Homo sapiens: one gene and its partners. The protein of the gene in region 1 interacts with the protein of each later gene in a pairwise test. Each region holds a gene or a part of one and is shown in the gene's direction. Other genes may lie near its edges. The genes, in order: RAB38, JPH3, A2M and MECP2.

Region 1 (7,478 bases):
TATTCATAGTGCCCCCTTTCACTCTCAAGAGTCATAGTTTGAATGATAAAATATATGGTCATTTCTTCCAGGCCTTTTGCAGAGTAAAATTCATCTGTTGTAAGATATATTTCTTGTATTAATCTAAGAAAAATTAGATTACCTTTTCTATAACAGAGCCCTTGGGACCCCATCTTGCAGTCATTTACATATTTCTTCAGAGCAATAATTAAAAGCTCACATAAGCTAATGAATAACTCCCCATGGCTCTCTTAATGGCAAAAGCAAATAATGTGACTTCACAGGGGCTCACCAAACACAGCAGCTCTAGGAGGAAAACATGAGGGTTTGTCCCTTCAAGTTTACATTTGCAAAGCAATTTGCAATCATTGTAGTTTTTCCATTTCATAAGACTAAGTACCCACATTGGACAGAAAGGGAATGGAGACTAAGAGAAACCTAATGCTGTGCCTTCTGGGATATCATTCTTGGCTTGAATTCTGAGCACTTTGTGGTCTCACACACCTTTTACAAACTTGAGTCATCAGCCTTCCCGACCTTGGTGAGAAGATGTGCTGTGGTTTAGCAATTTGAGGGTAGTAAGCTTGTCAAAACATCACCAGAGATGTTTTGAGAATTACTGTGGAGAACAGGTTTCCATGGTGCAGTGTGGCTGCTGGGAGGGGGACGAATGGCACAGCTGTTCTCTCCATGGGGAGGAAGCACTGGATCTTTTGTGTCAGAAAAAGCTGAGATCCTCCTGATAATCCTAAGCCATCTTGACAGGTATATGTTCAGGTTGGGGAAGATAGGTTCTGAAGAAGCATCATAATTGCAGGGGACAGGGTTGAATGAAAGAGGAGGCAAGAATGGTCTAGCTGCTTGATAATATCCTTTCCATCTATTCACTGTCTGGCTTGATCCAGTTTATAGTTTGTCCCTGGCTACCTGGCTCCCTGTCTGCAGCCTAGTTCTGAGTGTAGAAAATAAGTTCAAAGCAAGGAAGGGGAGTACATGAAGGTTTGTCCTCCAAAAAGAATGTTCTTGGATTGCCTTTGTCTTGTGGGAAAATGTACAGCAGCAGAGGAAAGAATAGCACCATGAAACCAGAGGAGAACTATGGCATCATGTTTGCTTTGAGATGGCCTTTCTTCCAAACCTAAAAGAGGAGAGAAAACATCACCTCTTTGGCAGTGGTGCTCTTGTGGGGTGACTAGAATCAGCTAGGGTGTCACTCCTACTAGACAATGTCTAGAAGACCCAGAATTCTGATATTTTAGAGTCCAAAGGACTTTCCAGAGATCTTGCAACCTAACTCCCTCATTTTACCCAAGGGACTTTCAGGTTCAGAGACCTAGGCGCCTTTTACGAAGATTTTACTGAACTGCTAGGCTGGGGTGCTTACCAAGCTACTGTAATCTAAAAGTCTTAAAAATATAAACCGAGAGTAATTTCTTCCCACTGTGAAGAATGATCATGAGACCTAAATGAGTACGGCTGGAAACAAAACTGCACATACTTCCTGCCTGGCCAAGGAACTTGCTCACCATGGTTGGCTGCTGTCCCTGAGAGAGGAATCTCCTACCCCCAGAGAGGCAATAAAACTGAAGCTTCAGGACCCCTTCCAAGGCCCTAGACCTAATTATATATTTTTGATTTTGCATTCTTTTGCTCAAAAAGCTACTTCCTCCAATTTTATCAGCTTCAGGACCAGAAATCCTGAACTTTGCCCTGCCTGTCCTACCTCATAAATCCAAATGTCTGATGTTCCAATATGCTCTTGCTCAAAAGAGAACAGATAAGGGTGAGGATGACTCTGCCGGGACCAGGCTTGGGAAAACAGTACGGGGCTGGTAAGAAAGTTGGGTTGGGTATAATTTTGAAGGCTGGCCCACAAGATGTCTCAAACTCCTACCTTGTTTCTACCCCAGGAGCTTGTTGGCCAGACAAAGCCTGTCTCTCAGATTTACAGACCCAGGATTTTAGAGCTGGCAAAGGTCTCATTTTGTCATCCTCCCTAATTTTGCAGGCATTTAGAATGGCTTAAGCATCTTGGGCTACTGAATTCCCCTCCCTGGGAAGTGAGGTGACATTGTTGGCTAATTCTTTAAGCAGGTAGAGTATTTGTCTCACTTGTTAGATGTGATCTTCTTGGTGTGTCCTCGCATGGGTGGAAACCAGTAAATGAGGCCTACCCAGCTAAGCACTTCAATAAAACACAAACGACTGCAATTCTACACACTGTCACTTAGTGTCCATTCTGAGCAAAACTTCTGAGTTACTCTCTGAGGAAAGATGAAACTGCACAGGACAGTGCCTGTGGACAGTATTTTAAGCTTGTCCCTCATTTCATAGTAATAGCTACAATTTATTTACCACCTACTATGGACCCAGCATTTTATCAACAATTTCATTTGTATTTATTTATTTATTTATTTATTTATTTATTTAGAGATAGAGTCTTGCTCAGGTTACCCAGGCTGGAGAGCAATGGTGTGATCTTGGCTCACTGCAACCTCTGCATCCCTGGTTCAAGATAGTCTCCTGTCTCAGCCTCTCAAGTAGCTGGGATTATAGTCACCTGCCACCACGCCCGGCTAATTTTTGTATTTTTAGTAGAGACGGGTTTCACCATGTTGGCCAGGCTGGTCTTGAACTCCTGACCTCAAGTGATTCACCCACCTCAGCCTCCCAAAGTGCTTGGATTACAATCATGAGCAACCATGCCCTGCCATAGGTATTATCATTCTCCTTTCGTTGATGTGGAAACCAAGGCTCAGAGGTTATGTGACTTGTCCCGGGTACACATCTTCAGCATCCCTCTGCTTGTTTGGGGCATGTGGAGGCTAAAGTTTAGGGAGTGTCAGGCCAGAAGAGGAAGGCAGAAAGACAATGGCCTTGCCAAACCTCCTTTCTCCCTTTCACACAGGCCTGTGTTTAAGTCCTAGTTCTAACACATACTAGTTATGTGTGCCCTTGAGAAAGCTGCTGTTAATCTTGGTTTCCTTATTTATAAATTGAAGAAAATAACCCACTTCATAAAGCAATTGAGAAGATGAAATGATAGAATGTGAGCAGAGCTCCTTCACAGCACATTCAGGTACAAAATAGCTCATTTTGGTATAAACTGCTCACCCCCTAGCCCTGAATGCCCAATTTCTCATTTTCTTTATGTCTTTACTAAATTGTCTCCATCTTACTGAAACCTTCCCTGGCCACCCTATCTAAAAGGCAAACCCCATATAATCTCTTCACATCCCCTTTCTGCCTTATTTTATTACCAATTAATATATGACAAATTGTATTTATTTTGTCTTGTCCTGTCTCCACCCACAAGAAGGTAAATTTTTCTTAGGCCAGTAGGCATTGTCTGCGTTAGGAGGATGATACAGAAATCCTAACGCAGACAATGCCTACTGGCCTCAAAAAAATTTACCTTCTTGTAGGTGGAGACAGACAAGACAAAATAAGTACAATTTGTCATATATTAATTGGTAATAAAATGTATATTGGTCAAATGAATGAAAACAAACAACAAAAACAACAAAAAGAAGTTGGGAACCTAAAGACCTATGTTTGAATTTGGTTTTTTTCCTTACTATTTGACTCTGGGTCCATTACTTAAAATGTCTGGTCCTTAGCTTCCTCATTTGTAAAATAGGAAGAAAAATGGTATCTATTATTAAGACAGCTGGGATGACTAAATGACATAATTTATAAACCCTCTGGCATATAGCGAGTGCTCAATAAATGTTTGCCATTATTATTATTTGTAATAATCTGACCGATTGTTAAAACTGTCTTTCTGTGCAGCTCTGAGTTTTTAGGATATGGGAAGAGGCTAAAAGTCACCAGTGCCCTTGGCATTTTCGGCCCAGTTGTCCTCCTTGTTAACTGATTACCAGTTGAATGGGTGTGAAAGTGCTCAGTGTTCCCACCTCCAAGCTGCTCAGAGGTCAGCATTGCCATTCATTGAGAAATAACAGGCTGTGAGAGCTCAAATGACTTACTTATGGTCCCTCAACTTAAAAACCAGGGCACGCAGGAACCAAGCCCAGCCAGTCTTGGGCTTCCTAATACTGTAATTTCTCTCTACAGTGTGGGGTAGTTAAGAGCCTGTGACTTCAGACCTGTGGTCAACGGGGCCTTTCACCGGCCATCTCCCGCAGAGTACTTTTTCACAATCAGTTTTCTCGCAAGCAAAACGTGGAAAATAAGATCCACACCTCACAAGTTTGTGGCCAGGGTCACAGGTGAAAACAGCTCTTCGGAAACTCTAAAGCGCCGGATAAATAAGCGCTGCAACAGGCAACCACACGCGAACCCCTTTCAGCTGCCAGTCCCGGGACTCGCTCCTGTCTCCTCCCCTCTCCAAGACCGCGGAGTAGGAAGGAGGATTAACCCCTAGGGGAGGAGTTCCGCCCCCCAGCCCCCGCCCCGCCGCCCACGCCTCTCTCTGCACCTACACTTGCGCTCCCCAAGTCTCTCTCGTGCGCAGAGCCCAGGCTGCGCTTCCCTGGTCAGGCACGGCACGTCTGGCCGGCCGCCAGGATGCAGGCCCCGCACAAGGAGCACCTGTACAAGTTGCTGGTGATTGGCGACCTGGGCGTGGGGAAGACCAGTATCATCAAGCGCTACGTGCACCAGAACTTCTCTTCGCACTACCGGGCCACAATCGGCGTGGACTTCGCGCTCAAGGTGCTCCACTGGGACCCGGAGACTGTGGTGCGCCTGCAGCTCTGGGATATCGCAGGTGAGCGCGGGGGGAGGGGGTCAGGGGGATAGAGCGCCTCGCGGCCGGTTTCCAGTCTCGAGGCAGCGGCTTGCGGCCAAGCGTGAGATTAAAATCACTAGGTCGCGAGGCAGTTTTTCCTGGTGGGCTGGAAACTTAGTTTCAAAGAAAAGAAAAACGTCTGAAACTTCAAGTGCATTCCCTGGCGCTTTTGGGCTATTGCTTTAGCTCCTTCCCGCACAGTCCCCTGGGATCTCTCTGCCCAGAGCAGGCCTCCCCAGGGAACCAGAGGAAGATTGTCTGCAATTGCATTCTGTTCTCCACTCCAGCTCGTTTTCTGGGCGCGGGCAGTTCTGCCAATGACGCAGCCCAGTGTCACGCACGTCCTTCCGTGCAGGGGCGGACCGAGGGGAAGCCCCTAGGCTGGTTCACAGAGGAAACCGGGATAGTTCCAGGCTAGCTGGAGTTTGCCCATTCCTGTCTTCAGTGGCTCACTTTATTTCAAATTTTGTCACCTTTCTCTCTGCCCTTAAGACAAAGGAGTTTGAGGGTTTTTGTTTTGTTTTTTTTTTTTTTTTTTTTTGCTTTTTGCTTACAGTAAGCCAAGTACTTTTGTGTGTATATGTCAGGGGCAAAGTATTCTTTCTCCCTCTCTTTCTGTATTTCTATCTCTCTGGCTCTCTGTCTTCTATGAAAAGGAGGTTGTGTGTATATTTTAAGGCCATTTTTATGTAAGGGCCTATGATAGCCTTATGATTTCTTGATTTGGCCCTAAAGTTTTCATTGAGAGATCTGAAAAATGAGAGGTTGTTTGTTTTTGTTTTTTACAATATTTAAAATCAGATTTTGACTCCACAGGTTTGTACCAGAAGTTAGGCCTAGTCAAAAGTGAGGGTGCAATGTATCTACTCCAAGTGTGAATCCTTGGACAAGGCTGTTTGCAACCTGCGCATGACCAACCCCTCATTACAGATTTTAGCCCTGCCACTAACTAACCTGCTCAGTGGCTTTGGACAAGTCTCTTCAGCTCAGTTGCATCGCTGTTAAGTGGAAAGGAGTTGGGCAAGGGTCAAGGATCTTCCTGCTCAGAAGTTTTAAAGTCCTCTGGGATTCTCCATGGGAACAACTTCAAACAGTCTTATTTCATGGTCTGTGACACCAGGAACCTTTCGTTATAAGTGCTGGACCCAAACTAGCCACTTCTGTTTCAGAAAATGGATTCATTTTAGCTGATGCATTTGATTGGAAACTCTTTATCATGGCTTGAAACTAGAACAAATGTGGAAAATTTTTGAAAGGGCATTTGTGATCTGGGGACTTTCGTGCCTCTTTAATCATGAACTGCCAGGCCTTTTTCTTTTAGCATGTGAACAGATGAACAGATTCATGCATTTGGAGTCATCTTCAGCTGCTCTAGTAGCAAGGGGGTTATCAGAGAACAGAAAATGTTATCAGCCACTGTTGGATGGGGCTTTTCATCTAAAAAAATTCTCTCTGTGTACTTTCTTGCTGCATGTCATAATGTCTGAAAACCCTTCTGGCTGCTCGAAAGTCCTCAGGATTCAGATTTAGAAACGGCTTACTGTTTAAACGGGGATGTAGCTGTAATTTGGACTTCTGTGTACAATCCAGGTAACAGCATGACAGCAGAGAAGTTCTATGTCTGTAGATTTCAGTCTCCTCACATAAACAGAAGAGATGGAAGGGTACAGTGATTAATAGCCCAAATTCCAGAGTTGAACTGCCTCCATCTGGATCCTTACTTTACTCTGCATGTAGTAGGCAATCTTAGGTAAGTTCTCTAACCTCCTTGTTTTGGTTTCCTTACTTGTAAACAGGGAGAATGCTTTCTCCCAATAGATGACAGGTGAGCAACCAACAGTGCTAGCTGAAGGTGATCATGCCTGTTCTCTAGGAGATCTGCAAGGATTATTATCACACTAGCTACCATTTTTTTAAGCCTATATAAATGCTAGGCAAGAAGGATATGATATACAAGTGCTTATTAATTCCTAATAAATTGTGATCCCAATATTACATATATATTTTGTCCCCAAGTTATCACCATTTTCAGCTTTGCTCCTGACATACTCTCAGGAGCAATTTAACTCCCAAGCTCGAAAGCACTTCGTTAGCCATGTTTTGTAGACTGAAGTTGCAGTGGAGGCTGTAGTCACAGAAGTCTGTATAAATAAGAAATCTGAAGTCTTGGGAAGTTCATTCTACAGATACTGCGGTGGTGTTACATTCAACATCTCAGTAGAGGAGCTTGTTTTTCCCAGAGCTCTAATGCTCAGTGGTAACCTGTCTTTAGCAGCCTTAAGCCCAAAGGCCCTGTTAGCTGAATTATAGATTGGACAGCAGGCACAGTGAATTGGGTGAAAGCTAGGCCACTGTAGGAAATGGTTGGAACATGCACGTGCTCCATGTTTCATGGTTTAAGCTGCATAGGGAGCCATGTGGGTTATGAGTTCATGTGAAATACAACCTCAACTGCCCACCCAGACTCCAGTCAGCCAGGTGTACCTTATAGTACTTTCAAATCACAGCCTGTCTGTCCACAGATAAGAATGCATCTCTCCGTCCTTAGTGTTCAACTCTGGTGTGTCCCCGGAGAGAGCAGGTAGTGGAGGTTAGTGGGCCTAGCTTTGAGAAGGTTGTGGGTGTTCAATGAGATAGAGAAGACCTGCACTGTTCTGATAGGATATCATATACATTTGTTATTAAGGGAATCTTGGCTCAGCTAGACTCTTGATACTCATTTGGT
Region 2 (7,024 bases), on another chromosome or scaffold:
TCCCCACTCCCCTCCCTTGCCTGCAGCCTTTCGGTGAGTGGGAAGCGCCTCTGCTGCCCTGAGGTTCCCTCTGGCGCCCTGGCCCGGGGACCGCGGCCTCGCTGTGGAATGTGCTGGGTAACGCCGTCTGGCGTCGTCTTGTGTCCCCATACAGGGCTGGAGTACCAGAGGCCGAAGCGTCAGACCTCCTGTGACGACATCGAGGTGCTGTCCACCGGGACACCCCTGCAGCAGGAGAGCCCCGAGCTGTACCGCAAGGGCACCACTCCCTCCGACCTGACCCCCGACGACAGCCCCCTGCAGAGCTTCCCCACCAGCCCCGCGGCCACCCCGCCGCCCGCGCCCGCCGCCAGGAACAAGGTCGCCCACTTCTCGAGGCAGGTGTCGGTGGACGAGGAGCGGGGCGGGGACATCCAGATGCTCCTGGAGGGCCGGGCCGGGGACTGCGCCCGCAGCAGCTGGGGCGAGGAGCAGGCCGGGGGCTCCAGGGGTGTCCGCAGCGGTGCCCTGCGCGGCGGCCTGCTCGTGGATGACTTCCGCACCCGAGGTTCGGGCCGCAAGCAGCCCGGGAACCCCAAGCCGCGGGAGCGGCGGACGGAGTCACCCCCCGTGTTCACGTGGACTTCCCACCACCGGGCCAGCAACCACAGCCCCGGAGGCTCCAGGCTGCTGGAGCTGCAGGAGGAGAAGCTGAGCAACTACCGGATGGAGATGAAACCCTTGCTGAGGATGGAGACGCATCCCCAGAAAAGACGCTACAGCAAGGGCGGCGCCTGCCGGGGCTTGGGGGACGACCACCGCCCCGAGGACCGGGGCTTCGGGGTGCAGAGACTGCGGTCCAAGGCCCAGAACAAGGAGAACTTCAGGCCGGCCTCCTCCGCGGAGCCCGCCGTGCAGAAACTGGCGAGCCTGCGGCTGGGCGGGGCCGAGCCCCGGTTGCTGCGTTGGGACTTGACCTTCTCCCCGCCCCAGAAATCCTTGCCTGTCGCTCTAGAGTCCGACGAGGAGAATGGGGATGAGCTCAAGTCCAGTACGGTGAGTGGGCGGCCACCAGGCTGGTCCCAGTGGAGGCAACATCCACCTCTCTGCTGACCTGGTGTTTCCTGAGGGTTTCCAGCAAGGTCACTGCTCCCCTGTTCCTCTCCAGGGGTGGAGTAGGGTGGGGGTACAGCCGGGAGTGGTGGCCCTCAGGTCGCTGGGACCCTCCCCTAGGAAGCCAGGTGGGGCAGGTGTCATACCTCTTTCCGTGAGAGGCTGCCCCCAGGTTGTCCAGAAAGCACACGAAACTCCTGGTTTCCAGGCAGCATGGGATCCCTGCGCTCCCCGCAACGTGCTCAACCCCAGCTGCTCCAAGAGTCTGTGCCCCTGGTCAGTAGCCTTGGGCCGTGAGATGACCGCTTGAGTGTCCTGTGTCCTGGATAGGAACCCAGAGGCGAAACAGCTGGGGGCAAGGCTGGCCCTGGGGCTGGGAGTCAGGTCTGGGGTTGGGGGGAGCTGCCAGTCCAGGTTTCTCTCACCCATGGGGGGTGTTGGGGTTGGAGCCGGCTCCCACGTGAGGCCCGCTGTGTGCAACTCACCGTCAGCCTCACCCAGCACCCCCCCCCCAAATTCGTTCCTCCAGGGCAGGCAGCTTGGAGGGAAGAACAGCGTCCCCCTGGGCTAGACTCGGCGCGAGGCTGGGGGTCCCAGGCTAGACTCGGTGTGCGAGGCTGGGGGTCCTGGTGCCTCACACAGGGCTGGCCTCCCCTTGAAGGGACCTTCACTCTGCAAATCCCACCCTGCTCCCTTGACCAGTGCTGCAGGAATGAAGGGCTTTGGGAATGAAGGGCTGTGGGACGGTGGCTACATAGGATCTGCGCACGGCCAGGCCCTCACCCCAGCAGGGCTCTGCTCGCTCGTGGCTGCCAGGCAGTGCGTGGTGCTGAACAGAAGTGCTGCAAGCCAGTCTGCCCCTCGGGTGTGAGGACGCAGGGGGGTGTCCGCAGGGGGCGCTCAGGGCGTGTGGGCCGGGCAGGGGGGACCATTGGTAGGTTTATTGTCGACGCTGCGGCAGGGGTCGGTGTCTGTCCCTGCCCCTGACCTAGGGGAGCTGTGGTTTTCTCCTCCTGCCAGCCCCACCCCCAGAGGGGTCACCGCGTGACACCCCTTTGAAGGGGCACGTCCTGCCGGGCGGCAATGCCTGTTTCTGCCTCTCCTTGGAACCACTGCGGACGTCTGTCTGTCCTGTTGGGTTCCTAAGATGCCTCCCCGTTCCCCAAAGCCCACAGAGAACAGCCCCTATGCTCCTGCTGGGACCAAAATACCAGCTCACACTTACAACTTGATTTTCCCCATCGCAGCCGGAGATGTGTGCGTGGCTGTGCGCGCGCGGTTATTTTAGGAACAGCCAAGCAGTGGGCAGGGTGGGAGGTGTAGGGACGGGTTCTATTTTTAGCCTGCTTAATGCACTGACACTTTTGGGTGCTTTTAAATGAACCTCCCTGGGGGTCAATGCACAAGCTGGGGACAAGTGCCAAGCTGGCCTCTGGGATGAGTTAGCGACACGCAGGGTGCTACATGCTGCCCTGGTCCTGCCCGGTCTCCAGCTGGGGCTAATCTGGAGGTCCCGTCAGCTGCAGCATCATGTCCCACCCACCCTGGAGGATGCCAGCTGAGCTCCTTGGAAGTGGCCACCCTGGGGTACCTGGTGCTGGTGCAAACAAGGTTTCCCTCCCTGTCTCCCTCCCCGTCTCCCTCCCCACAGCTTTGGAGCTGTGTTTTCTGCCAGGTCTGTGAGGGGAGATGGTGTGTAGAGGCGCGGTCAATCCTAAGCACTGTTCCAGGCCCTGTTGGTGGGAAGCAGGAGGGGCCCGTGCCAGCCGGCATCCATGTCAGGGGACAGGTGTCAGGGCAGTCGGGTGCCAGGCTGGGCTGAGTGCCTTCAGTGCCACCCCCTCACAGGGGTACAGCTCTCTGCAGTGTCTCCCCTGGGCCACCAGCAGGGTCTGGGGTGCTGTCTTCTGGCCATCCCCCTCCACCATTCCCAACATGCTGCAGAGCTCACACGCCAGAGGCCCTGGGTCCCACTGGCCACAGATGGGCCTGGGATTCTAGCCCACATAGGGTCCCACTGGCCACAGATGGGCCTGGGATTCTGGCCCGTGTAGGGCCCTGGCAATTCAGGGTAAAGTCCCTTAGGATGGAAGCACAGGTTCTCCCTACCGCTCTACTGGTGAAGGAACTCTGGCCCTGGCTGTTTCCCTCTTGGTGAAATGATGGATATGACCTGATGGTGGGGTCCAGGGTTGGAGGATGGCTGGGGAGACAGAAGCTTCCCTCCTGCGGGCAGCCACGCCCTCGCCCACAGCGTCCGTACCTGCTTCCCGGCCCAGAGCACGGGCTGGACTGTGGCAGAAGAGGTGCCACTGACCACCCCACTCTGTCCTGCTACCCCACTACAGGCTGACTAGCATCCGGCCCTTCCTCCTCGCTGGGGTGGGGGAACTTTGCACCAGGGGTGGCATCAGTGGGCAGGGCTGGGCCCTTGGCTGTTCTCTGCCCCCTGCAGGCTGGCCCGGCCCAACCAAGTTGTCATGGGGCCCAAGACTCACAATACACCTGCCTGAGGCCACGATGCCACGGAAAGCTGGGCTCAGGGCAGCTTGCTTTCTCTCTGGCTGAGTGGAGGCCCTTGCTGTGTCCACAACTCCACTTCCATCTGCGCCTCAGGTCCCTGATAGGCTGGGAGGTTGCGGAGGGTGTGGGCCTGGTGCTGCTGTGGCTGCAGGTGCCCCCTAGGCAGCACCTCACCCTCTGAGGACCCTCCTCTCTGAGCTGCATCCCAAGGACAGTTTACAAAGCCCTTTGCTGACTGGGGTTCAGCTTATCTGTTGAGCAAACTTTTTCTTTAAAAAGTTTCTTGGCCAGGCACGGTGGCTCACACCTATAATCCCAGCACTTTGAGAGGCCGAGGCAGGTGGATCACCTGAGGTTATCAGTTCGAGACCAGCCTGGCCACCAGGGTGAAATCCTGTCTCCACTTAAAAATACAAAAATTAGCCGGGCATGGTGGCACACGCCTGTAATTCCAGCTACTCAGGAGGCTGAGGCACAAGAATTTCCAGAACCCGCAGGAGGCAGAGGCTGCTGTGAACTGAGATCATGCCACTGCACTCCAGCCTGGGCAACAGAGCGAGACTCCATCTCAAAAGTTTCTCAAGCCAGTGTCTCTAGGGCCTGAGGGCTCCAATCCCCAGTGTGAGGTGAGGCGCTCGGGCCTGGGAGCTGATGCCCAGCATACAGTCGGGGGTGCCCCTGCCAGGTGTGGTGCAGAGCACGGCGGGGGTGTGTGAGACCTGAGGATAGCGTCTGGATGTTTCTCTCACGTTAACGGGAATGAGATAGGCTCATTGGCTGCTCATCCCCAAATCCAAATGGAAAACCGCCATTCGGGCCAGGCAGAGGCAAGTACTCCCACCCGTTGCCGCTGCCGTGTTGAGCCCACCGTGCCGAGTGGTGTTGGCAGGAGCCTCCCGAGGAAGCTGTGCCAACGCAGGAGTGGTCAGAGCCTGTCCAGGCCACAGACGGGGCTACGATGAGCACTGCTGCCCAGGGCATGTTGGGGGCAGCTCCTGGAGACCACAGGGAGGGGAGGTGGGCACCCAGGTGTGGGCAGAACTGGACCAGGAGGAGGAGGGGCAGCAGCTTGCTCAAGGCACAGGGCCTCAGCCACAGGGTGGCGGGCTGGGAAGGGGCGAGGGTGTGGTGGGTTCTGAGTGCCCCATGCAACGGCTGTTTTGGGCCACGTGCTCAAGCAGGCACCCAGGGAAGACCAGCCTAGGTGCTGGCGTGAGGCCCTTCAACATCAGCTACGATGCTGCTTCATCAGGAGCACAGCCTGGGGAAAGAATGAAACTGACCCAGGAGACAAAAGGGTCCCCGGGCCAGACGGTCAAGCAGGAGGCTGCTTCGCTGCCGCGGGATGTGGCATCCAGGCTAGGCAAGGGGACGGCAGGCTGCCATCCCCAGAGGGAGTTCTCCGGGCAAGGCCGTGACCCCACTGGGGCTCTGAGTTTGCATCCTTCCTGTGTGTCAAGAGCAGAGCCGGCCACTGCCAGCCCATAGCTCCCATGGTGCGGCCCTGGAGAGCTGACTTCATGCGGGATGTCTGCTGTTCTTTGCGTAGCTTTACTGAGACAGAAAGCGTGTACTGTTCACTTCAGGTGGCCACAGTGTACAAGTCAGGGATTTTAGTGTATTCCCAGTTATACAGCCATCACCCCCAATTCTATCTAGATCAGCTCCATCACCTTAAACCTCAGGGCCATTGAGCAGGCACTTGCTGTCCCCTCCTCCCCCAGCTCCCGGACTCTGCTTTCTGCCTGGTGCCCAGCTTCTCACGCAGCATGCACTGCTCCTGCGCTTTCTCTGTGGCAGCCGCGGTTGCACGGCCCATGTCTTCCCCGCTGTGTGTTCATCCTCCACTGGACAGCTGGCTCTGCTTCCACTCCGTGGCTGTTGTGAATCCTGCTGCCGGGAGTGTGTGCACACACAAGGTTTTGAGTGGAGGCTTGACTTTGCCCTCTTAGATTTAGGCCTGGGAGTGGAACTGCTGGGTCCCCGGTGTTCTCATCAATTCTCTTCCAGTCTCTGGGAGAGGAGCCAGCAGCAGCTGCTTCGTTGTGGGTGGGGGGAAGGGGGAGGCCCGTTGTTCGGGCTCCCCTCCTTAATGCAGGCCTGAGCAGCCCTCACCTGGTGCCACATGAGCTACTCAGTCTTAACAGACCACCCCATCATGTCTTTGAAATTTGACCAGAGGCCAGACTTGGGGGCTTAAAGGAGTCCATGGAAAACCAGTCTGTTAACAGGGAGGGGGAGGAGAGTAGCCATCCCTGAGGAATGTGCATCCTGGGACCTTCAGGACAAGCCCTGGTCCATCTGTGTCGCACAGCAGCAGGATGTCTGCGTGGTAGGAAGTGGAGGGCTCCGGGGGCTCTGAACAGCTCCTTACCACAGTGGGGTCTACATCTCCTTCCAGGTGGCTGCGAGATGCAGGGCGTGGTGGGGGTGGGGAGAGGCAGGGGCAAGTGTCCTCTGGAAGCAGACTGTGGGCAAGACTGGAGTGGGTGTCCCAGCCATTCCTGGGCTGGGGCCACCGTCCAGGAGGCGTCCATTCCCTGTGCAGCAGGTACTGTATCTGTAGGGCAGCACCCACCCCTGCCGTCCTGGGAGCTTCCCAGAGGGGCCACGCTCCCTCTCCCCCTGCCTGGTGTGAGCAGAACACAGCAGAGTGCAGGACTGCAAGAATCACTGCAGAAGGGCGCCCCCGGAAAAGGCTCTGTTGTGAGACGTGTCCTACCTGGCCCCGGCAAGCACAGGGAAGGTGGCAGCTTGGTCCGAGTGCCCAGGCTGTGCGGCTGAAGGGGGAGTCTGGCACTTGGGGCTCCGGCGGAGGCTGAGGACTTGTGAGCCACTTCAGGGAGGTGGTGGCAGCAGCATTCAGGACCATAACCTAAATCCAAGGCAGCTCGCAATTGGACACAGTCCTCCAGAGCCAGTTGGCGTGAGGGGTTTGTTGAGGAAGGTGTGGTGAGGGGGGGTTTTGTTGAGGACACTGTGCTCACGGACTTTGGGAGTCCTCTGAGTTCCAGGGCCTCTCTGCTGGGCTGCATCTGACACTGGCCATGGCAGCCATGCGGGCCCTTCTGAGATTCTGAGGTCCCAGTTCCACAGGGCAGGAGAAGCCTGCTGACTGGCACAAAGGCCACACGCACCGAGACGTTTGCTTGCAGGGAGGCCTGGGTGGTTCTCTCCAAGGGGACCCTGGGAGAGCTGGTACTCAGGGTGTCGGGGCCACAAGGGAATTCCAAGGGAATTCCAGGACCAGCAACCTCAGACGTACAGGCAGCTGGGGCTTCTCTCCCGCGTCTGGACTTCACGGAGCTCAGGTTCTGGTGGGCCTTTGGTGTCCAAGCGTTTCTAACATCCTCCCGTACGCTTCCACCCCCGAGGGTCTGCTAGCTTGGTGAAAAGACGTGGGTGGGAG
Region 3 (7,024 bases), on another chromosome or scaffold:
AGTCTCAGGTTTTTATGACATTTTCTCACAAGAATCTCAAAATTCATGCTGACCAGTTTCATTACGATGCTAACACTAACTTTGTATGGAAACAGGTGGGTAGGTGGTTTTAATTTTTATTTTGAAGTATTAAAGATTCTACAATAATGTTTATTTCATGGATAGTATATTTACACTATTTTTCTATAACAAGTATATTTCTAAAACAGTGAACATGGGGTAAAACACTGCTATTTAAGGTTCTCAGATTTTTGAATTATGAATTTTCATGTTATCTACCAAAAAAATCTTCTCTTACAATTTTTCTGTTGTCAGCAGATGTGCAAATGGATCTTTATGACTCTAGAAGTCTGAGATCACAGTTACATGTGCCTCAATGTGTATTTACTGTGTATCATTTTCTTAATGTAAATGTTACAGGATTTCAGCTATGAAGGGTGTAAAAGAGGCATAGACTCAACAAAGTGGAGTACATTCTAGAAGGCTTGGTTATGTCATGACACCAAAATGTATTCAACTTCCTAAAATGAAAGTGTAGCTCATTTGTAAATTTCTCAGAAAGATAGTGTACTTTGTAAGTACATTTTATTGCTGTTAAATATCCTATTTGTCATAAGACTCTCTAGCTAGAAGAAAATCAGAATTATGTGCCTATTCTTGTCTTTGTACATGCAGCCAACATTTCACTGGCAAACTTAGATTTTGTAAATCAATTATGAGTACTGATGGGGGTCAGCCTATTGTTCTTCCTGCTACCAACTGTAGCTTATACTGAAAAAGAATTGCCACCTTTACAATCTGAACTGGACTACTCAACTGCCAATACAATATTAGCAGTAAATTAGATTTGGCAACTTATTTAATACTGTGTGCCTCTTTTCAATTTTATATTTTTCACATGGGAAGTGTGTCATAAAATCTGCCTACCTTCCAAAAGGCTGAAGATCTAGGTTGAGAAGCAGAGACCATGTCTAAGGCAACTGGAGAAACACACAGGACAATGTATTGGCAATTGTTTACTTGTGCACTTATGAGACTTCAGACACTAATCTATAGGAAGTTAATGGTCCACTCCAAAATAGGTGTTTGGGGCACAAATAAATTTAGTTAATAGATTAATAGATTAAAATATTTCATTATCATATTACTCTAGTGCTCTGTGACTCTCTAAGAGTTATATATAATAATACACAGCACTTCCAAAATATCTAGAAGACATTTTTCAGGTCACTCTTGTTATTATCCCTATCACTCTCTATCCCTTCACACTGCTCTGTTTTTCTTCTTAGGATTGATTACTACTAAATTAGTGTATGTTATGTATATATTTATTTAGCATCTATCTCTTTCACTAGACAGTAAGCTCTGTGATGGAAGAAACTTCGTTTTTTTTCACTGCTGTGTCCTCAGTGCCTGGAACCATGTTCAACATAGAGGAGGCACTAAAAAATGTGATAAATGAATATGTTTGGTGCCTATTAGTTATTACCAATATAACTAATCCACAGCTTTTAATCTTCAGGTGCGCCTAGTAGATGGGAAAGGCGTCCCTATACCAAATAAAGTCATATTCATCAGAGGAAATGAAGCAAACTATTACTCCAATGCTACCACGGATGAGCATGGCCTTGTACAGTTCTCTATCAACACCACCAATGTTATGGGTACCTCTCTTACTGTTAGGGTAAGTTTGGAAAGAAATTACCAATGACATGAAGTAGCCTTGGAAACAAGGTTGCAACCTAAGGGTGAGAAAATTTCCAAACTGTGTCTAGTTCTATGGAGAGAAAAAAACTAGCAATTAGAAACCGATTGAAGGTTAACTTTTTTAAAGTTTATGAAAAGAAGGCAGTATATTGTGATTAAAAGTGCGGGTTAGACTTTAGCAGTGTTGCTGGGAACGTAAAATGGCGGAGCCACTATGAAAAACAGTATAGTAGTTCCTGAAAAAATTAAAAAATAGAATTACCAAATGATCCAGTAATCCTACTTCTGGACATATATTCAAAAGAATCGAAAACGGGGTCTCAAAGAGCTATTTGCACACCCGTGTTCATAGCCGCACTATTCACAATAGCTGAGAGATCGAGGCTACCCAAATGTCCATCAAGGGATGAACAGGTAAACAAAATGTGGTATATAAATACAACAGAATATTATGCAGCCTGAGAAGGGAAGAAAATCCTGTCACATGCTACAGCATGAATGATCCTTGAGGACGTTATGGTAAGTGAAATAAGCTAGTCACAAAAAGACCAATACTGTATGATTCACGTACATGGGGTTTCTAAAGTAGTCAAAGTCATAGAAACAGAAAACAGGATGGTGGTTGCCAAGGGCTAGGGAAAGAGAGAAATGGGGAATTCCTCTTATTGGTATTCAGGTTTAGTTTTACAAGATGAAAAGTTCTGGAGATCTGTTGCACAACAGATATACTTAATACTACCAAACTGTACACTAAAGAATAATGAAGATGGTAATTTTATGTTGTGTGTGTGTGTGTGTTTATAATAACTTTTTTGAAAAGTGTGAATTCCAGAATCTGAATCAGATAAAGTGGTTAAAAATACTGGCTCAACCCTATTTTAAGGAATTAACTAAAACCTCTGTGCTTCATTTCCTTATCTGTAAAATGATTGCAATACTAACACCTGACTCTTGGGGTGGTTGTGAAGATTAAGTGAAATCATACATGTTGAATCACTTAGTAAGCCCCCTTTAACTGTTAGATACTTTTACTATAAAAGCCAATTCTAACATAATTAGCATTTAGTTTTAAATATATATACTCCAAAAATTATTACCTTACTTTATTTTGTCTTGCTATTCTAATTTTCTCCAGATGACCTGTTCATACCAATATAAGTTATTCGGTATAGCATGCAGTCCTCTATTCATCAAGAGAGATGTAGACATGTCTATAGATACATGGATATACAATACATATTTAATATATATTACATAATCATGGTAATGGAAAACGCCTGCCTCTTTAGAGTTTTACCTTGTTATAGAGAAATAAATAATACATTTTATTTATTTAGCTTTAATAGATGGCATAAAAGCACCTCCCTCTAATTTGAATGTTTACTCATTTCAAAAAGTGTCTTGAATGCTTTCCACGTGCCAGCACTGTGCTAGTCTTGACAATGAAATTATTATTTCTACCTGTTCCCTGTTTGGGGTGATCATATATGTGTTGTCACCAAAATATACATTAAGATATGAACAAAATGTTTTGCTCAAGGATTCACTAGTGCTATTGGGAGCTGGGGATGAAGGTAGAGGAAGCCTGAAAGGAGCTAAGGAATAACTTCTACAGGAAGAAAAGTTGGAAATATAACCCAAATAGGGCCTCTGAGGTATTAGAATCCAGATTGCAGGGAGCATTAAAAATAGTCAGCCTAGGCCAGGCACGGTAGCTCACGCCTGTAATCCCAGCACTTTGGGAGGCTGAGGTGGGTGGATTGCGTGAGGCCAGGAGATCGAGACGAGCCTAGGCAACGTGGTGAAACCCTGTCTCTACAAAATATACAAAAAATTAGCTGGGTGGGGTGGCATGCACCTGTAGTCCTAGCAACTCAGGAGGCTGACTGGGAGGATCACTTGAGCCCCAGAGGCAGAGATTGCACTGAGCCAAGATTGTGCCACTGTACTCCAGCATGGGCGCCAGAGCAAAACCCTGTCTCAAAAAAATAATAATAATAGCAATCAGCCTAAGATAGCCCAGAAGAGGTAGACTTCAGCTAATTCATCAGCTCAGCTCTTAAACCAATGCTTTCTACCAATGTCTTCTCAGACCCCTAAGGTTACAATATTTTATTTATTCATAATACCCATTCAAAATCCACCCTAAAAGAGGCAGCTGCTTTCTGAAAGCACAGTTCTTCCATTTCTAGAGATTATTTACTCTCCTCAATGAAGTTTCATAGCTCCAGTGTCTCTAATTGCACAGGTAAAGCAGTCAAAGAAATTTCAAGCAAGCTAATCAGAGCAAAGGATGCCTCCTTTTATGCTCTTAAGAAATATAAATCTCAATCCCAGGAGGCTCTGCAGTGTAAAGTCACAAAGCATGCCTACATTTGAAGCAGAGAAACAAAATCAGGGGTCCTTCTCCCACTTTTCATTGTGGAACAAAAGATTTCTAGCTACTAGTTAAGGTAGGACAGTAAACTTACGTAGTTTTGTGAGAACATTAATCTTTATGACGTATAATCTAAAAATAATATAATTTTTCTAATTCATTAGGTCAATTACAAGGATCGTAGTCCCTGTTACGGCTACCAGTGGGTGTCAGAAGAACACGAAGAGGCACATCACACTGCTTATCTTGTGTTCTCCCCAAGCAAGAGCTTTGTCCACCTTGAGCCCATGTCTCATGAACTACCCTGTGGCCATACTCAGACAGTCCAGGCACATTATATTCTGAATGGAGGCACCCTGCTGGGGCTGAAGAAGCTCTCCTTCTATTATCTGGTGAGAAGGGAGGTTACTGCGTTGACTTCACTGTAGACAAAAGCTCTCTGTGGAGCAAGTAATCATGAAGCTCTTTAGATGTCATTACTTCAACTTCTTATCCATGTTCCTTTTGAAAGTTTGATTTCTCTTGAGGTGAATTATTGCCGGCAGGGACTCAATAAAACAAGTATATTGAAGTGAGACTGAAGCGTGTTCTCTCTGGCACATTTAATTTCTTTTTATTTCCTTTTTTGCAGATAATGGCAAAGGGAGGCATTGTCCGAACTGGGACTCATGGACTGCTTGTGAAGCAGGAAGACAGTGAGTATTTCCATCATCTCTGCATTGCTGCCCCATTCTGACCCATTCAGCCTTACACCACGGAAGTATCAGAATACTTTCCCTTTTTTTCCATAGGTTTTTGGGGGAACAGGTGGTGTTTGGTCACATGAATGAATAAATTCTTTGGTAGTGATTTCCGAGATTTTGGTGCACCCATCACCCGAGCAGTATACATTGTACCCAATTTGCAGTCTTTTATCCCTCACCCCCTTCCACCCTTCCCCCTGAATCCACAAAGTCCATTGTATCATTCTTATGCCTTTGCATCCTCATAACTTAGCTCCCACTTCCTAATAGCTTAGCTGCCACTTCCTAATAGCTTAGCTCCTACTTCTGAGTGAGAAGATATGATGTTTGGTTTTCCATTCCTGAGCTGGGAATATCAGGAATACTTTCAAGTAACGAGAGACCATTTCCATCTAATATTAATTAAAAGAAAGTTGAGGGAGGGAAAACAATAATGGTTTTTTTCTCACCCTTTATCAAATATGTGTTGTCTTTTTTTTCAGCCTATTTTCTTTGCGTTATTTAAAATATTGGTGTGGGCCAGCTATGATGGCTTACGCCTGTAATCCCAGTACTTTGGGAGAACGGGATGGGAGGATCTCTTGAGGTCAGGAGTTTGAGACCAGCCTGGTCAACATAGTGAGACCCCATCTCTATAAAAGTAAATAAATAAATAAATAAATAAATAAGAACAAAGGGGGAAAAATAAAATACATAAAATATTGTTGTGTATAATCTATGCTTATTCCAGATTTTTAAACCATAAATATTCTTGAACCTCTTCTCAAAATGAGAATTGTGTTAGAGAATGGGGTGGAGAAAATGTACGATTTCAAGGTATGTTGTATATACCAGGTCTTGTGCTGAGTCATTTATGTCATTTATATTATTATAAATATCTTTTTTCCCTTTCAAGATAGTTATGATTTATGAAGCATTAAATTGGGTACTTCTACCGACTGAAGCGGACTCTTGCCATGAGCAAATATGTCATAATATAAACCTTTGAAGGTTGCTCCTAGTCTAGTAGACTCTAAAAGATAACTTGCTAGAAAAGTATCAGTAATCTACTCTCTCATTAGTTCTTGTAGCAACACAGAAGCACCATAGCAGACTGAAGGAAACTTAATGCAACCTCTAAAGAATCTACATAGGCATCAAAAAATAACTTCTGAAGGAGCATGGTGTTCCTCTTATGGAGAAAGAACCAAATATTGGCTCATAGAAGGTTAAAGAGCATGTAGCATGAATACAATGTGTTGAACTCTTACTCTTACATCTCATAACTTCAGGTTCTATTTCCCTCTTCTAGTATGAGGCCTAGATCAAATGGTAGTGAATTGGATGTCTTCATACCCTTAACTAGCATCAGAACATTAGGTGGGTGAGCTGAAGCTTAAAGCTGGTGAAAAATCAACAGAGTATATGATTTATGAGAGGAGAGAGGGCTTTGATAGGGTTTTTTTCTAAAGCTAGAGTCCTTAGAGGTAATCATCCATTTGTTACATCTACTGTTTATTATGTCTGTTACATCTACTAATGGAAATAGTCATTAACCTATGATGGCTTCCTCTCATTCTCTTTGTGCCCCAGTGAAGGGCCATTTTTCCATCTCAATCCCTGTGAAGTCAGACATTGCTCCTGTCGCTCGGTTGCTCATCTATGCTGTTTTACCTACCGGGGACGTGATTGGGGATTCTGCAAAATATGATGTTGAAAATTGTCTGGCCAACAAGGTGTGTGTTTTAGATCATAAAATCTTCAACATGTAAAACTAGAAGTTACTATTGTTATCATTTGTTTTACACATGTGAACATTAGGGCCAAAAGGGTTAAACAAATTCCCCAGAGACATTCAGCAAGGTAGTGGCAGAGTCACACTAAGAAGCAGAATCACTTGATTCCTTATACAAAACTCTCAAACTTCTCCTAGCAGTGCCTCTTACCAATTACACAGTTCAGAGTATGTTATTCCCTTCTTCTATGATGAAACGTTGGGAAATATGTAAGCAAGTTTTTAAGACTACTAAGGAGCCAAAAGAAAAATGCAAGAGCACCTAGACCCATGCATGTCCCACCACAATTAATGAGCACCTTGCCGTGTATCAAAGATAAAAATGGCATTTCATGACTAGTAATTTATAAGAATAATTAGAAATAATTCTACTGGCTCAAGTGATTCTTGAGAATGAAAGAGAAGTGTAGGGAACAAAAAGCT
Region 4 (7,024 bases), on another chromosome or scaffold:
GACTCAGGCCCAGGCACCAACCAGCAGAATGGGCCTCAGCCTGACAACCCTTCTGTACCAGGCCTGACTCTTTGGTTGCTGAACTTTGGAGAGGCCTGGGGGGGTCAGCGGCAGGCAGACGAGTGAGTGGCTTTGGTGACAGGTCCTCAGGGGCAGCCAGGCAGTGTGACTCTCGTTCAATAGTAACGTTTGTCAGAGCGTTGTCACCACCATCCGCTCTGCCCTATCTCTGACATTGCTATGGAGAGCCTCTAATTGTTCCTTGTGTCTTTCTGTTTGTCCCCACAGTCCCCAGGGAAAAGCCTTTCGCTCTAAAGTGGAGTTGATTGCGTACTTCGAAAAGGTAGGCGACACATCCCTGGACCCTAATGATTTTGACTTCACGGTAACTGGGAGAGGGAGCCCCTCCCGGCGAGAGCAGAAACCACCTAAGAAGCCCAAATCTCCCAAAGCTCCAGGAACTGGCAGAGGCCGGGGACGCCCCAAAGGGAGCGGCACCACGAGACCCAAGGCGGCCACGTCAGAGGGTGTGCAGGTGAAAAGGGTCCTGGAGAAAAGTCCTGGGAAGCTCCTTGTCAAGATGCCTTTTCAAACTTCGCCAGGGGGCAAGGCTGAGGGGGGTGGGGCCACCACATCCACCCAGGTCATGGTGATCAAACGCCCCGGCAGGAAGCGAAAAGCTGAGGCCGACCCTCAGGCCATTCCCAAGAAACGGGGCCGAAAGCCGGGGAGTGTGGTGGCAGCCGCTGCCGCCGAGGCCAAAAAGAAAGCCGTGAAGGAGTCTTCTATCCGATCTGTGCAGGAGACCGTACTCCCCATCAAGAAGCGCAAGACCCGGGAGACGGTCAGCATCGAGGTCAAGGAAGTGGTGAAGCCCCTGCTGGTGTCCACCCTCGGTGAGAAGAGCGGGAAAGGACTGAAGACCTGTAAGAGCCCTGGGCGGAAAAGCAAGGAGAGCAGCCCCAAGGGGCGCAGCAGCAGCGCCTCCTCACCCCCCAAGAAGGAGCACCACCACCATCACCACCACTCAGAGTCCCCAAAGGCCCCCGTGCCACTGCTCCCACCCCTGCCCCCACCTCCACCTGAGCCCGAGAGCTCCGAGGACCCCACCAGCCCCCCTGAGCCCCAGGACTTGAGCAGCAGCGTCTGCAAAGAGGAGAAGATGCCCAGAGGAGGCTCACTGGAGAGCGACGGCTGCCCCAAGGAGCCAGCTAAGACTCAGCCCGCGGTTGCCACCGCCGCCACGGCCGCAGAAAAGTACAAACACCGAGGGGAGGGAGAGCGCAAAGACATTGTTTCATCCTCCATGCCAAGGCCAAACAGAGAGGAGCCTGTGGACAGCCGGACGCCCGTGACCGAGAGAGTTAGCTGACTTTACACGGAGCGGATTGCAAAGCAAACCAACAAGAATAAAGGCAGCTGTTGTCTCTTCTCCTTATGGGTAGGGCTCTGACAAAGCTTCCCGATTAACTGAAATAAAAAATATTTTTTTTTCTTTCAGTAAACTTAGAGTTTCGTGGCTTCAGGGTGGGAGTAGTTGGAGCATTGGGGATGTTTTTCTTACCGACAAGCACAGTCAGGTTGAAGACCTAACCAGGGCCAGAAGTAGCTTTGCACTTTTCTAAACTAGGCTCCTTCAACAAGGCTTGCTGCAGATACTACTGACCAGACAAGCTGTTGACCAGGCACCTCCCCTCCCGCCCAAACCTTTCCCCCATGTGGTCGTTAGAGACAGAGCGACAGAGCAGTTGAGAGGACACTCCCGTTTTCGGTGCCATCAGTGCCCCGTCTACAGCTCCCCCAGCTCCCCCCACCTCCCCCACTCCCAACCACGTTGGGACAGGGAGGTGTGAGGCAGGAGAGACAGTTGGATTCTTTAGAGAAGATGGATATGACCAGTGGCTATGGCCTGTGCGATCCCACCCGTGGTGGCTCAAGTCTGGCCCCACACCAGCCCCAATCCAAAACTGGCAAGGACGCTTCACAGGACAGGAAAGTGGCACCTGTCTGCTCCAGCTCTGGCATGGCTAGGAGGGGGGAGTCCCTTGAACTACTGGGTGTAGACTGGCCTGAACCACAGGAGAGGATGGCCCAGGGTGAGGTGGCATGGTCCATTCTCAAGGGACGTCCTCCAACGGGTGGCGCTAGAGGCCATGGAGGCAGTAGGACAAGGTGCAGGCAGGCTGGCCTGGGGTCAGGCCGGGCAGAGCACAGCGGGGTGAGAGGGATTCCTAATCACTCAGAGCAGTCTGTGACTTAGTGGACAGGGGAGGGGGCAAAGGGGGAGGAGAAGAAAATGTTCTTCCAGTTACTTTCCAATTCTCCTTTAGGGACAGCTTAGAATTATTTGCACTATTGAGTCTTCATGTTCCCACTTCAAAACAAACAGATGCTCTGAGAGCAAACTGGCTTGAATTGGTGACATTTAGTCCCTCAAGCCACCAGATGTGACAGTGTTGAGAACTACCTGGATTTGTATATATACCTGCGCTTGTTTTAAAGTGGGCTCAGCACATAGGGTTCCCACGAAGCTCCGAAACTCTAAGTGTTTGCTGCAATTTTATAAGGACTTCCTGATTGGTTTCTCTTCTCCCCTTCCATTTCTGCCTTTTGTTCATTTCATCCTTTCACTTCTTTCCCTTCCTCCATCCTCCTCCTTCCTAGTTCATCCCTTCTCTTCCAGGCAGCCGCGGTGCCCAACCACACTTGTCGGCTCCAGTCCCCAGAACTCTGCCTGCCCTTTGTCCTCCTGCTGCCAGTACCAGCCCCACCCTGTTTTGAGCCCTGAGGAGGCCTTGGGCTCTGCTGAGTCCGACCTGGCCTGTCTGTGAAGAGCAAGAGAGCAGCAAGGTCTTGCTCTCCTAGGTAGCCCCCTCTTCCCTGGTAAGAAAAAGCAAAAGGCATTTCCCACCCTGAACAACGAGCCTTTTCACCCTTCTACTCTAGAGAAGTGGACTGGAGGAGCTGGGCCCGATTTGGTAGTTGAGGAAAGCACAGAGGCCTCCTGTGGCCTGCCAGTCATCGAGTGGCCCAACAGGGGCTCCATGCCAGCCGACCTTGACCTCACTCAGAAGTCCAGAGTCTAGCGTAGTGCAGCAGGGCAGTAGCGGTACCAATGCAGAACTCCCAAGACCCGAGCTGGGACCAGTACCTGGGTCCCCAGCCCTTCCTCTGCTCCCCCTTTTCCCTCGGAGTTCTTCTTGAATGGCAATGTTTTGCTTTTGCTCGATGCAGACAGGGGGCCAGAACACCACACATTTCACTGTCTGTCTGGTCCATAGCTGTGGTGTAGGGGCTTAGAGGCATGGGCTTGCTGTGGGTTTTTAATTGATCAGTTTTCATGTGGGATCCCATCTTTTTAACCTCTGTTCAGGAAGTCCTTATCTAGCTGCATATCTTCATCATATTGGTATATCCTTTTCTGTGTTTACAGAGATGTCTCTTATATCTAAATCTGTCCAACTGAGAAGTACCTTATCAAAGTAGCAAATGAGACAGCAGTCTTATGCTTCCAGAAACACCCACAGGCATGTCCCATGTGAGCTGCTGCCATGAACTGTCAAGTGTGTGTTGTCTTGTGTATTTCAGTTATTGTCCCTGGCTTCCTTACTATGGTGTAATCATGAAGGAGTGAAACATCATAGAAACTGTCTAGCACTTCCTTGCCAGTCTTTAGTGATCAGGAACCATAGTTGACAGTTCCAATCAGTAGCTTAAGAAAAAACCGTGTTTGTCTCTTCTGGAATGGTTAGAAGTGAGGGAGTTTGCCCCGTTCTGTTTGTAGAGTCTCATAGTTGGACTTTCTAGCATATATGTGTCCATTTCCTTATGCTGTAAAAGCAAGTCCTGCAACCAAACTCCCATCAGCCCAATCCCTGATCCCTGATCCCTTCCACCTGCTCTGCTGATGACCCCCCCAGCTTCACTTCTGACTCTTCCCCAGGAAGGGAAGGGGGGTCAGAAGAGAGGGTGAGTCCTCCAGAACTCTTCCTCCAAGGACAGAAGGCTCCTGCCCCCATAGTGGCCTCGAACTCCTGGCACTACCAAAGGACACTTATCCACGAGAGCGCAGCATCCGACCAGGTTGTCACTGAGAAGATGTTTATTTTGGTCAGTTGGGTTTTTATGTATTATACTTAGTCAAATGTAATGTGGCTTCTGGAATCATTGTCCAGAGCTGCTTCCCCGTCACCTGGGCGTCATCTGGTCCTGGTAAGAGGAGTGCGTGGCCCACCAGGCCCCCCTGTCACCCATGACAGTTCATTCAGGGCCGATGGGGCAGTCGTGGTTGGGAACACAGCATTTCAAGCGTCACTTTATTTCATTCGGGCCCCACCTGCAGCTCCCTCAAAGAGGCAGTTGCCCAGCCTCTTTCCCTTCCAGTTTATTCCAGAGCTGCCAGTGGGGCCTGAGGCTCCTTAGGGTTTTCTCTCTATTTCCCCCTTTCTTCCTCATTCCCTCGTCTTTCCCAAAGGCATCACGAGTCAGTCGCCTTTCAGCAGGCAGCCTTGGCGGTTTATCGCCCTGGCAGGCAGGGGCCCTGCAGCTCTCATGCTGCCCCTGCCTTGGGGTCAGGTTGACAGGAGGTTGGAGGGAAAGCCTTAAGCTGCAGGATTCTCACCAGCTGTGTCCGGCCCAGTTTTGGGGTGTGACCTCAATTTCAATTTTGTCTGTACTTGAACATTATGAAGATGGGGGCCTCTTTCAGTGAATTTGTGAACAGCAGAATTGACCGACAGCTTTCCAGTACCCATGGGGCTAGGTCATTAAGGCCACATCCACAGTCTCCCCCACCCTTGTTCCAGTTGTTAGTTACTACCTCCTCTCCTGACAATACTGTATGTCGTCGAGCTCCCCCCAGGTCTACCCCTCCCGGCCCTGCCTGCTGGTGGGCTTGTCATAGCCAGTGGGATTGCCGGTCTTGACAGCTCAGTGAGCTGGAGATACTTGGTCACAGCCAGGCGCTAGCACAGCTCCCTTCTGTTGATGCTGTATTCCCATATCAAAAGACACAGGGGACACCCAGAAACGCCACATCCCCCAATCCATCAGTGCCAAACTAGCCAACGGCCCCAGCTTCTCAGCTCGCTGGATGGCGGAAGCTGCTACTCGTGAGCGCCAGTGCGGGTGCAGACAATCTTCTGTTGGGTGGCATCATTCCAGGCCCGAAGCATGAACAGTGCACCTGGGACAGGGAGCAGCCCCAAATTGTCACCTGCTTCTCTGCCCAGCTTTTCATTGCTGTGACAGTGATGGCGAAAGAGGGTAATAACCAGACACAAACTGCCAAGTTGGGTGGAGAAAGGAGTTTCTTTAGCTGACAGAATCTCTGAATTTTAAATCACTTAGTAAGCGGCTCAAGCCCAGGAGGGAGCAGAGGGATACGAGCGGAGTCCCCTGCGCGGGACCATCTGGAATTGGTTTAGCCCAAGTGGAGCCTGACAGCCAGAACTCTGTGTCCCCCGTCTAACCACAGCTCCTTTTCCAGAGCATTCCAGTCAGGCTCTCTGGGCTGACTGGGCCAGGGGAGGTTACAGGTACCAGTTCTTTAAGAAGATCTTTGGGCATATACATTTTTAGCCTGTGTCATTGCCCCAAATGGATTCCTGTTTCAAGTTCACACCTGCAGATTCTAGGACCTGTGTCCTAGACTTCAGGGAGTCAGCTGTTTCTAGAGTTCCTACCATGGAGTGGGTCTGGAGGACCTGCCCGGTGGGGGGGCAGAGCCCTGCTCCCTCCGGGTCTTCCTACTCTTCTCTCTGCTCTGACGGGATTTGTTGATTCTCTCCATTTTGGTGTCTTTCTCTTTTAGATATTGTATCAATCTTTAGAAAAGGCATAGTCTACTTGTTATAAATCGTTAGGATACTGCCTCCCCCAGGGTCTAAAATTACATATTAGAGGGGAAAAGCTGAACACTGAAGTCAGTTCTCAACAATTTAGAAGGAAAACCTAGAAAACATTTGGCAGAAAATTACATTTCGATGTTTTTGAATGAATACGAGCAAGCTTTTACAACAGTGCTGATCTAAAAATACTTAGCACTTGGCCTGAGATGCCTGGTGAGCATTACAGGCAAGGGGAATCTGGAGGTAGCCGACCTGAGGACATGGCTTCTGAACCTGTCTTTTGGGAGTGGTATGGAAGGTGGAGCGTTCACCAGTGACCTGGAAGGCCCAGCACCACCCTCCTTCCCACTCTTCTCATCTTGACAGAGCCTGCCCCAGCGCTGACGTGTCAGGAAAACACCCAGGGAACTAGGAAGGCACTTCTGCCTGAGGGGCAGCCTGCCTTGCCCACTCCTGCTCTGCTCGCCTCGGATCAGCTGAGCCTTCTGAGCTGGCCTCTCACTGCCTCCCCAAGGCCCCCTGCCTGCCCTGTCAGGAGGCAGAAGGAAGCAGGTGTGAGGGCAGTGCAAGGAGGGAGCACAACCCCCAGCTCCCGCTCCGGGCTCCGACTTGTGCACAGGCAGAGCCCAGACCCTGGAGGAAATCCTACCTTTGAATTCAAGAACATTTGGGGAATTTGGAAATCTCTTTGCCCCCAAACCCCCATTCTGTCCTACCTTTAATCAGGTCCTGCTCAGCAGTGAGAGCAGATGAGGTGAAAAGGCCAAGAGGTTTGGCTCCTGCCCACTGATAGCCCCTCTCCCCGCAGTGTTTGTGTGTCAAGTGGCAAAGCTGTTCTTCCTGGTGACCCTGATTATATCCAGTAACACATAGACTGTGCGCATAGGCCTGCTTTGTCTCCTCTATCCTGGGCTTTTGTTTTGCTTTTTAGTTTTGCTTTTAGTTTTTCTGTCCCTTTTATTTAACGCACCGACTAGACACACAAAGCAGTTGAATTTTTATATATATATCTGTATATTGCACAATTATAAACTCATTTTGCTTGTGGCTCCACACACACAAAAAAAGACCTGTTAAAATTATACCTGTTGCTTAATTACAATATTTCTGATAACCATAGCATAGGACAAGGGAAAATAAAAAAAGAAAAAAAAGAAAAAAAAACGACAAATCTG

Evidence for each region.
Region 2: the proteins of RAB38 (region 1) and JPH3 interact in binary tests that used the Homo sapiens proteins (3 or more experiments, as listed by UniProt).
Region 3: the proteins of RAB38 (region 1) and A2M interact in binary tests that used the Homo sapiens proteins (3 or more experiments, as listed by UniProt).
Region 4: the proteins of RAB38 (region 1) and MECP2 interact in binary tests that used the Homo sapiens proteins (3 or more experiments, as listed by UniProt).

What each region holds. Positions count from the first base shown.
Region 1 is NC_000011.10:88,172,437-88,179,914, reverse strand, and holds the start of RAB38 (ras-related protein Rab-38), read left to right. Parts: upstream 1-4,471; 5' UTR 4,472-4,530; coding exon 4,531-4,732; intron 4,733-7,478. UniProt on the Homo sapiens protein: The small GTPases Rab are key regulators of intracellular membrane trafficking, from the formation of transport vesicles to their fusion with membranes.
Region 2 is NC_000016.10:87,689,492-87,696,515, forward strand, and holds part of JPH3 (junctophilin-3), read left to right. Parts: intron 1-154; coding exon 155-1,035; intron 1,036-5,145; exon of another isoform or gene 5,146-6,650; intron 6,651-7,024. UniProt on the Homo sapiens protein: Junctophilins contribute to the formation of junctional membrane complexes (JMCs) which link the plasma membrane with the endoplasmic or sarcoplasmic reticulum in excitable cells.
Region 3 is NC_000012.12:9,098,899-9,105,922, reverse strand, and holds part of A2M (alpha-2-macroglobulin isoform a precursor), read left to right. Parts: intron 1-1,522; coding exon 1,523-1,684; intron 1,685-4,248; coding exon 4,249-4,476; intron 4,477-4,715; coding exon 4,716-4,779; intron 4,780-6,399; coding exon 6,400-6,542; intron 6,543-7,024. UniProt on the Homo sapiens protein: Is able to inhibit all four classes of proteinases by a unique 'trapping' mechanism. This protein has a peptide stretch, called the 'bait region' which contains specific cleavage sites for different proteinases.
Region 4 is NC_000023.11:154,024,715-154,031,738, reverse strand, and holds part of MECP2 (methyl-CpG-binding protein 2), read left to right. Parts: intron 1-285; exon of another isoform or gene 286-288; coding exon 289-1,372; 3' UTR 1,373-7,024. UniProt on the Homo sapiens protein: Chromosomal protein that binds to methylated DNA. It can bind specifically to a single methyl-CpG pair. It is not influenced by sequences flanking the methyl-CpGs.